2 separate regions of the Homo sapiens genome follow, and region 1 is linked to region 2. The links come from fine-mapping of genetic effects on gene expression. A gene starts in region 2. The other region holds a variant in brackets. All regions are shown on one strand. Distances are from middle to middle.

The links. PIP is the estimated chance that this variant, and not a neighbour inherited with it, causes the effect.
Region 1: its variant is the best candidate, but not a certain one, in a credible set for the expression of NCOA6 in whole blood (INTERVAL, PIP 0.57).

What each region holds. Positions count from the first base shown.
Region 1 is chr20:34,745,496-34,750,878 of GRCh38, reverse strand. NCOA6 (nuclear receptor coactivator 6) reads left to right here. Exons shown (of 15, transcript NM_014071.5): 9 at 360-1,476; 10 at 3,951-4,072. Among named protein-coding and RNA genes, the nearest start is that of TP53INP2, 44 kb to the right of the region's middle. The variant G/C (reference allele first, on the strand shown) is at 2,597.
Region 2 is chr20:34,822,676-34,828,058 of GRCh38, reverse strand. NCOA6 (nuclear receptor coactivator 6) reads left to right here and starts at 2,408. Exons shown (of 15, transcript NM_014071.5): 1 at 2,408-2,587. RefSeq lists silencers at 2,302-2,491, 2,502-2,941.

The DNA.
Region 1 (5,383 bases), 77 kb after region 2:
CCCGAGCCTGGCCACTACAAGTCATTTTAAAACAGTGAGATGCTGCCTTTCTCATTATTTAATCTGAAAGAAAGTAAACTTTCTTGATCTTTGAAACGTTAAATCTTTAAGATACCATATGGGAATGTAGAAACTGTTTCTCCTTCTCTATTATATGGTCATTGGGAATGTAAGCAGTTATCCCACAGCCACATCTTTGTAGTTTAGAAAACTCACAGGAAGTATGTCAACAGCATATTTATGTTGGTCAGTGGATATAAGGGTGATGGATGTCTTTCTGAGTAATGTAACTTGAGTATCTTAATACCAATAAGATAAAAATATTTATTTCTGAAACTGTGACTTTTTTTTTTTTTAAGGTGGTCAAGGAGCTGGTCCTCCTCAAAACCAGATGCAGGTGTCCCACGGGCCGCCAAATATGATGCAGCCCAGCCTCATGGGAATTCATGGCAACATGAACAATCAGCAGGCTGGTACTTCTGGGGTTCCTCAAGTGAACCTCAGCAACATGCAAGGCCAGCCCCAGCAGGGCCCACCATCTCAGCTGATGGGCATGCACCAGCAAATCGTGCCCTCCCAGGGCCAGATGGTCCAGCAACAAGGAACCTTGAACCCTCAGAACCCTATGATCCTTTCAAGGGCCCAGCTTATGCCACAGGGCCAGATGATGGTGAACCCCCCGAGCCAAAATCTTGGGCCCTCGCCCCAAAGGATGACCCCACCCAAGCAGATGCTTTCCCAGCAGGGCCCACAAATGATGGCGCCACATAACCAGATGATGGGGCCTCAGGGGCAGGTTTTGCTCCAACAGAACCCAATGATAGAGCAGATTATGACCAATCAAATGCAGGGGAATAAGCAGCAGTTTAACACTCAGAACCAGTCCAATGTCATGCCGGGACCAGCCCAGATAATGAGGGGACCAACTCCAAACATGCAAGGAAATATGGTGCAGTTTACGGGACAGATGTCAGGACAGATGCTGCCCCAGCAAGGGCCTGTGAACAACAGTCCATCTCAGGTTATGGGCATTCAGGGACAGGTCCTGCGGCCACCAGGGCCCAGCCCACACATGGCCCAGCAGCATGGTGATCCTGCTACTACAGCAAATAACGATGTCAGTTTATCTCAGATGATGCCTGATGTTAGCATTCAACAAACCAACATGGTCCCCCCTCATGTGCAGGCCATGCAGGGAAACAGTGCCTCGGGAAACCACTTCTCAGGCCATGGGATGTCTTTCAATGCACCTTTCAGTGGAGCTCCCAATGGAAATCAGATGTCCTGTGGTCAAAATCCAGGCTTCCCAGTCAATAAGGATGTCACGCTAACGAGCCCATTGTTGGTCAACTTATTGCAGAGTGACATATCTGCAGGCCATTTTGGGGTAAACAATAAGCAAAATAATACCAACGCAAATAAACCGAAGAAGAAGAAACCCCCTCGGAAGAAGAAAAATAGTCAGCAAGATCTAAAGTAGGTTGTGATGGTTTTGCCTCAAATTTTATTCATTTGTTTTCTGTGTGGATAACTTTTTTGATGGAAAATTTTACAGAATATAAAACTAGAATAGTATAATGAAATCCCCCTGCTTCAATAATTATCAACTCATAGTCTGTCTTGCCTTCATCTGTACTCTCTTCCATTACCCTTTTGAGTATTTCAAAGCAAATTCGCTGGGTAAATATTTCAGTGTGTGTCTCTAAAAGATAAGGACACTTTTTAATATGCCCGCACAATATTGTTAGCACACCTAGAAAACTAATACTTCCTTAGTACTCTCATATCCAGTGTTCAAACTTCCCTGATTATCTCAAATTTTTTTCTTACAATTTGTTCAAATAAGGATCCAAACAAGATTCATATGTTGCAATTGGCTGGTATATCTCTTAATTTTACAGTGTCGGGGGGTTTTGGCAATCAGAGCCTGAAAAGTAACCAGTGCTACCATATGGCAACTCCACAAAGCACTGACTTTAGGCTTATGATGGCTATTGGGGAACCAGAGAGGCCAAATGTGTTTTGGAAATTAAAACTACTGCTGTCTCTCAAATAGAAATGGTTTTTTTGCACAGGTGCCTTTCCTTTAAAGGCTCTTTATCATCCCTAGAAGCTTAAAACCCCACGCTAAGATGATTGGACCTTTTAAATCAGTTACCCTTTCAGTAAACGTTCTCCAGGTGAGTTATTTTGCAAGATCATAGCAGGAAAGGCAATTAACAATTTATATTTCATTTCCTGAAGCTAAGTATTAATTTGTGTTTCTGGGTTTGATAAAATGTTTCCAGAAGGAATATTCACTGAGCTATATTTTGTGCCTTTAATCATAAAAAAATAATAAATGAGGAAATAATGGCTAATGAATGTAAAACAGGTTAATTGAAATAAATTGTTAGAATTATAGAAAAAGAATCAAGAAACTTTATTTCAACCAGCTTAAATATTCAAAATTAAACCAACTACCTTTATCCCAGCCTTCCCACAACATTCTTTGTACTGTATTATATCATGCTCACTTGCCTCTTCTTGAATCTTATGCTTTAAAAGCTAATCATGGTGTATTATTAATGATAACCTATATTTTCCTGAATTCAAA[G/C]TTAATTATCTAATTTTTCTGATAGCTCTTTCTCAGTTAAATTCTTTACTAGCATCAACCTATGGGAATAATTATTTAATAAATATTTTATTCTCTCGGTAGTCTGGGAGTAAAATTGCAAGGTTATTCAGTTGCCTCTAGTGTGTATTTTTTGCCATCTTCACCAGCCCTTAGGGAAATTGGTTACTTAGGTCTACAAATTGTGAAAGGGACCTTACACAGCATCAGGACTCCCAGGAAAGGGAGACAGTGGATTTACAGGAAAAGTACCTGCTTCCAGCTCTACCACTACTTCACTGTGGAATCTTGGGCCTGTTTCATACACCTTTTTGGGCCTTAGTTTTCTCATTCATAACATGATGGGGCTGGACCAGATATCTGAGATTTCTTATCTCTACAATTTTCTGAAAGTAAAGGTTACCACTGAATTCTTGCCTGTAATTTAAAGTGAGAGAGAAGTCTTACAAGGAGCAAATTGTTATAGGTCTGGATGTGCTGACGATCTGCTTCAGGTTCTAAATTTCCATTTGCTGGGAGGCTTTTAAAGTGGATTTTTGTGGCTTATGAAACTGTACAGAGTATAATGAGACAAAACACTACCTAAAAGTGGGTGAACAAAATCAGGGCAAAGGGAAACTAAAGATAGAAAAGAAAAGTACAATTAGTACTGAGATTACAAACAAAATGAGGCCCGTGACCAGTCTTGTTCTTTGAGAATGTGGGTGTTAGTAGCTACAATTTCTTCATTTTTTTCTTCCTTACTAAAAATTTTAAGCTACACCCAGGTAAAAGCAAAGGCATCTCAAAGCAAATAGAGATGTCTGCAAATTCTCATTCTGCAGCAAAATCTTTGTGGTGGTGGTCTCAATCTTTCTTTGTTCTCTGAATACCATCAGCCAACCTATACAACCTTTTGCAAGGTGTTATGAATTGAGCCCCCACTGTTATATCCACAAAAAAGAAACAATCAGACCCCCTAGTTGAATTTGATCGCTACATTGAAGATAGTGTGGTTTCACAGGAACAGTACCTTGTAACATTGATAGTCCTATGATCAGGTCTTAAAACAGCTAAGGAATGGGTGATTACATGAAAATTATTGCACCAGGAATTTGTGGAAAGCATTCTGAGTAAATACAGTGCTGTTAGATTAAATGGATTTTAACATTTAATGAAATTGCCAGATTATTTTTATGCCAATATTTAATATTTTATCTAGACTAGAGAGAGATGAATAATGGTAATGCAAACATTTTAGTTCTTCAGAAATAGGGGAAGGGTTAAGCTAGTTTTGTGTATTTTCTATACAACTTATTCTAAAATATGTCACTTTTTTTTTTTTTTTTTTTTTTAGCACCCCAGATACTCGCCCAGCTGGTCTGGAAGAGGCTGATCAGCCACCGTTGCCTGGAGAACAAGGAATTAACTTGGATAACTCAGGCCCTAAACTGCCAGAATTTTCAAACCGGCCACCAGGTGATAAAATGTTAGCTAGATTATATACTTATTACATGTGCATGTGGCATTACAAGGCTTCCATGTCTTCAAGGAAACAATAGTATTTTATTTTATCTGCTAACTAGTCTACTTCAGTGATTTAATGTGTCTGGTATTTGGAAGCTTTGCCTTGATATTAAGTAAAAATTTCAAATATAACTTTTGAAGGCACATACACACACACATTCTATTCAAATTTGTCTTTGTTATTTTAAGTCCTCATAAAATCGGACTGAAATGTGGTTGGGCATGATGGCTCATCCACCTGTAATCACAGCACTTTGGGAGGCCAAGATGAGCAGATCGCTTGAGCGCAAGTGTTCAAGACCAGCCTGGGCAACATGGTGAAACCTTGTCTCTACTAAAAATTTTTTAAAAATTAGCCAGGTGTGGTGACACGCACCTATAGTCCCAGCTACTCAGGAGGCTGAGGTGGGAGCATCACCTGAGCCCAGGAAGTCGAAGTTGCAGTGAGCCATGATCATGCCACTGCACTCCAGCCTGGGACCCTGTCTCAAAAAAAAAAAAAAAAACCATGAAATGTGAAGTGCCTCTTTATTCTTGTCAATGTCAAGATTCTAGTTGGCATCAGAACAGGATAAGATTAAATGGAGAGATGATTTCACTCTAATCCTGCTTGCCTGCCTTTCCTGCAGCGTTTCTTCCTGGGGCTTCTCAAAGCAGGGAACTACCAGGGTTTAAAACAAGATGATCTTTTTTATAGAAGTTTCATTAATGAGTCTTTAAAATATAAAGAAGATATAAAGAATAAAAGAGACACCCATGTATCTACCACATAGGTTAATAATTTATAATAAATAGGACCAATATTGGAAGCCCCCTTTGTTGTATCCTCTCTGATTATAAAATAATACTATCCTTTAAATGTTGAAAAATTATGTCAAAGATGGAAAAGCTCCTAAAATTAATTCATTCAAACCTAGATATTATAGAACCAAGGCCAGCTGCCACAATATCTCTATACCTGGTTATCTTGGCCTGAGCAATGACTTGTAACTTTATTCCCCTATGACACGGTTGAAGATACACAACCCTTCACACTTAGGCCACTCTCCCCTGTGTGTACAGAGGGTATGTTTTGTTTCTTCCTCACTAGTTATTTCAACTTCTTTTTGGCATGAAAATGAGAGCGACATTATTTTAGGAGTAACCTTTAATCTACCCCTAATTTATGTATTTTAAAATTGAATCCAAACAAAAAGCTAAATCCATCATGATATCAATACTTTGTGTTATTTATTACAAATTATTTGGGCATATCACACTTCC
Region 2 (5,383 bases):
GTGTTGGGATTACAGGTGTGAGCCACTGCACCTGGCCATCAACAGATACTTTTAAGTAGAGTAGTGACATGATCATATTTCTGATCATTAGAAACATTACTCTGACAGCAGGGTGGAGAATAGATTAGAGGGCGGTCAGGGTAATGTGAAAAGATGGTGGGTATCTACTACACCAGTCCAAGCACACTGTGTGTACTCAATAAATATTGATGGAATGAAAGGGTTCCTGACTCCCTTTCTTCTATGGGATCAGTAGGACTGATTTGTTTAATTAGTTTACAATCCACCTGCTCATCCTCTATCTCCTGGGATGCTCAGAACAGACCCCAACTCCCATTTTACAGATGAAGATGCTCAAGTTCAGAGAGGCAAGGACAGCTATCAAGAGCGAAAGCCAAAGAGAGCTGCCATACAATCCAGCAATCCCATTCTTAGGTATACACCGGAAAGAAAGGAAATCAGTGTATGGAAGAGATCTGCACTCTCATGTTTACTGCATCCCTGTTCACAACAGCCAAGATTTGGAAGCAACCTAAGTGTCCATCAACAGATGAATGGATAAATAAAATGTACATATACACAATGGAATACTATTCCGCCATTAAAAAAGAGTGAGATCGTGTCATTTGCAACAATATGGATGGAACTGGAGGTCATTATGTTATGTGAAAGAAGCCGGGCACAGAAAGACAAACTTCACATGTTCTCACTTATTTGTGGGAGCAAAAAATTAACTATTTTTTATTTTTTTTTGAGACGGAGTCTCACTCAGCCACCTAGGCTGGAGTGCAGTGGCGCGAGCTAGGCTCACCGCAACCACCATCTCCCAGGTTCAAGAGATTCTCCCGTCTCAGCCTCCTGAGTAGCTGGGATTACAGGCACCCGCCATCATGCCCACCTAGCTTTTGTATTTTAGTAGAGACAGGGTTTCACCATGTTGGCCAGGCTGGTCTTGAACTCCTGACCTCAGGTGATCCGCCCATCTTGGCCTCCCAAAGTGCTAGGATTACAGGCGTGAGCCACCATGCCGGGCCAGGAGCGAAAAATTAAAACAATTGAACTCATGGAGATAGAGAATAGAAGGAGGGTTACCAGAGGCTGGTAAGATTAATGGGGAGGTAGGTGGGAAGTGGGAATGATTAACGGGTACAAAAGAATAGTTAGAAAGAATAAGACCTAGTATTTGCTAGCACAAGAAGGTGACTACAGTAAAAAACAATTGGCCGGGCGCGGTGGCTCACGCCTATAATCCCAGCACTTTGAGGGGCAGAGGCGGGCGGATCATGAGGTCAGGAGTTCCTGACCAGCCCGGCCAATATGGTGAAACCCCATCTCTACTTAAAAAATATACAAAAATTAGCTGGGCGTGGTGGCATGCGCCTGTAGTACCAGCTACTCAGGAGGCTGAGGCAGGCGAATCCCTTGAACCAGGGAGGCGGAAGTTGCAGTGAGCTGAGATCGCGCCACTGCACTCCAGCCTGGGCGACGGAGTGAGACTCCGTCTCAAAAAAACAAAAATAAAACAAAAAACAAAAAAAAAACCACACACACACAAAATTTACTTGTACATTTTAAAATAACTAGAGTATAATTGGGTTATTTGTAACACAAAGGATAAATGCTTGAGTTGCTAGATACCCCATTTACCATGATGTGATTACACATCGCATGCCTGTATCAAAATCTCATGTACCCCATAAATATATTCACCTACTACGTACTTACGAAAATTTAAAAAATACATCAGTGTAGTGTGGGAAAAAACAGAAAATTTTTAAAAAAGAGTGAAAGCCAGATATGAATCCAGGCCTGTATGACAGACATGAAGTCCAGTGCTGAGGAGGCCTTTCTACGTTTGGGAAGAGGGGAGGGGCCACACTCGTTCGATCAATAATTCTATTTACTGAGCATTTTAGCTTGCTAGGGAGGTAATGATGGGAAAAAGAAGAGAGGGATTTAGAGGCAAATAATAATGAAAGCTTTTATCTATATCCCATTAAGCTTATTATTAGACAGTATGTGTCAGGCACGGTGACAAGTGCTTTCCAAGCCCACCTCCATTTGCTCTTCACAAGCACTATGATTTTCCCCATATTTCAGATGGGTAAACTGAGGCTTGGAGTTGCCATGTCCAAGGATACTCAGAGCGCTCGCAAAAGACTGTGCAATGTGTGCTTCCGAAGTGGGACTCACTGGCGAGAGAATAGCCCTGGAAAGCCGACAGAGACCCACGAGATCCCAGCACTAAGCACTCAGCACCGAAGGGAGCTGGCGCGCGCTCCACCTCGCGCTCCCGGGGACGTCTGGTCACGTGGGCAATGCCCCGCCCCTCGAGTCCGCCCCGCCCCCTCTCGCGCTCCCTCCCTCTCTCCCTCCCTCCCCCTCCCTCCCCGGCCCGGTCCGGCCCATCCCCCTCCCCGCCGGCTCCGTGAGGCCCTGCCGGGTCGGGCTGCGGGCGGCCGGGCGCGGGCGGCGGGACAGACGGGCGCACGCGAGGACTGACGGACGGACGCACCGAGGGCGGCGGGCACGCACGGCCCGGGCCGGCGCTCCAAGGCCCGCCCGGGAGGGCCGGGGCCGCGCTCAGGTGAGGGGACGGCGGCGCGGGCCCGTAAGGGGTGGGCCCGCCGGGCGTCCGCGGTCCTTGTCGGGCTGGCTTCGCGGGGAGGAGGCGCCGCCCGGGCCCGCGCGGAAAAATGGCGCCGGGCGACCGAGTGGCACGGTCTGAGAGCGGGCCCGGCCCGGAGCCGCCCCGCCCGCCGCGCTTGTGTCCCCGTCGCCATGTTGGGGAGCGGGCCCCAGGCCTGCGGGCGGGGGCGCTGGAGGGAGCGGCGGCCGGGCTGGGTGGGGAGGGTGCTGGGCGCGGGGGCCGGTGCACTGAGGGAGTGCAGGGCTGGCCGGGGTCTGCACGGGGTGGCGCTCCAGGCCTGGGGAACAGGCGGGAGCCGGTCGTGGGGTCGTGGTCAGGGTCGCGGAGAAGGAACACTGGGTCCGAAGGGAACCGGGATTGGGGTCTATGGGCTGAGAGGATGGCAGGACGTGGAACTGGGTTAGGCCTTAGGCGGTGTTAGAGCCCTAATGCAGGTAGGACCTGGGGATTGGGGTGGAGGCATGGGGGCCAAGCTCAGGCTGTCAGGGCTGGAGCAGTTCTTTGCTGGGAGGGAAGGAGGTGATTGATGAGGAATGAGGGCCCTTTGGGTACAGACGCTGGTTCAGATTGGGGCAGTCCTTGGGGTACTGGGGCTGAATTGCAAAGCTGTATAACTCCCAAGGCTCTGAAGACTTATGTCCCAAGCATCCTCCACCCCCTCTTGGGGGAAGCAACAGGAAAAAGGAGGTGTTTGATGAGAGAAAAGGGGGACAAAGGGAGACTGAGGTTTGGGTGCAGGAGCTGGCCAGCAAAAGAGGCACAGAGAGTGGAACTGGTTGGCAAGGAAGGAGAGAACCTTTATCAACTTAGGGAGTTGTGTGTGTCTTTAAAAGGAGGGACCTGGCTGTTTGGGGGCGGTGACCCAAGGTGTCTTCCCTGGAAGGGGACAGCCCACAGCTTAAGAGCAGAGTCACCTGGAGAGGTCATCAGAAAGGCGTTATTGAAGCCAGTAAAATGGTGAAGAAGAGTGAATGTATAAAAACTACAAAGGCCTGAGAGATCAAGTAAAGATTTCAAATCAGGTAGTGATTTTAGCTGAAACATAGAAAGGTAAAGTTGACTTTTCAAGATCTTACAAGTTAGTGGCAGAGGGGTACTAGAAATTGTCGGCTGCTTCCTCACTAAACACATTGCCTTAAAGGAATTTGCTAGCTGGGAGAAAGGTGTTAAGAAATGAAGCATAACATTCTTGTGATGAAACTAAAAGCAAACAAACAAAAACAACAAGAAATGAAGCATAACAGTATATACCAGATAACTATTAAATTTGTTTTCTTCCTGTAATGAGTGTGGCAATACAAAGGCTGAAGGGAATACAAAAAAGTATAGGCAGCCAGTTATTTGGTATTTCCTGGTTCATCTCTAATTGTGCAAAGAAGTTATCTTTGAGACCTTCTAACTTTCTAGAGTTTTAAGAGGTGCTCCGGCCAGCCACAGTGGCTCACGCCTGTAATCCCAACACTTTGGGAGGCCAAGGTGGGAGGATTTCTTGAGCCCAGGAGCTGGCAGACCCCATCTCTACAAAAGAAATAAAAAAAATTAGCCACCTGATGTGGCTTGTACTTGTAGTCCCAGCTACTCAGGAGGCTGAGGTGGGAGGATCGCTTGAGCCTGGGAGGTCAAGGCTGCAATGAGCCATGCTATGGTCATTCCATGACATTCCTGCCTGGGCGACAGAGCAAGACACTGTCTAAAGAAAAAAAAAAAAGAGAGATGCTCCTTCTCTTCTAGGTGTTTACCACAAAGGAACACAAAATCCTAAAAAAGAAAAGTGAAAAATTGTAGACACCCAGAGTCTCTATTTTATTAATTGAAGTTGGATCATGTTAGAGAAGAATTCAAAGTTCGCATGGGCTATGGGAGAGTTCTGAAGGAAATATGCAAATTAGTCATGGAAAATAGGTCCAGGGCCCCATATAATCAAAGAGAATTAGCGAACAAAAATATTATGCGGGCATATATAAAATAAAACTGTCAATACCATATGTATATACAGCAACACAATTCATTTGTTCTGGGTTTTTCTTTTCTTTTCTTTTCTTTTTTTTCTGTTTGTAGAGTTGGGGTTTCAACATGTTGCCCAGGCTGGTCTTGAAATCCTGAGCTCAAGTGATCTGCCCACCTGAGCCTCCCAAAGTGCTGGGATTACAGGCGTGAGCCACCGCGCCCAGCCTATTCTGGGTTTTTCTAATGCAGGAAGACCTGACCTTATCTGTGCCATGGACCCCTTTCAGAATAATATTTTTTAATTGTATAAAATAAAGTACATTGAATTATAAGGAACACCAATTATATTAAAATACAGTTTCCAAAATATACAAATCTAATATGCATATACTTGTTTATCAGCACGTTAAGAAATCAGATTTAGTGATGGATCCGATAATTATAATTTCAAAGACATGATGCGCATAAAGGCTACTTCAAGATTATATGCAACAATTGTAGTATGATATAAAGATATTTGAGATTTCTGTTGTTACAGAGTCACAGAACTGCTAATACTAGAATGGTATGTTACCTACACTCATATTTGAATAGAATGGTAATTTTCAGTTAAAAGTTAGTAAAAGAGATTTTTTTCTCCCTGTCCAAGTTCACAAGCCCCACTGAAGTCCTATCTATAGACTCCTGTCTATGAACCCCAGGTTAAGAAACCCTACTCCTACTGCCAGGCATGTCTTCCATTCAGCAAACGTTTACTGTGCCTCAAGGCATCTACTGCATATCAAG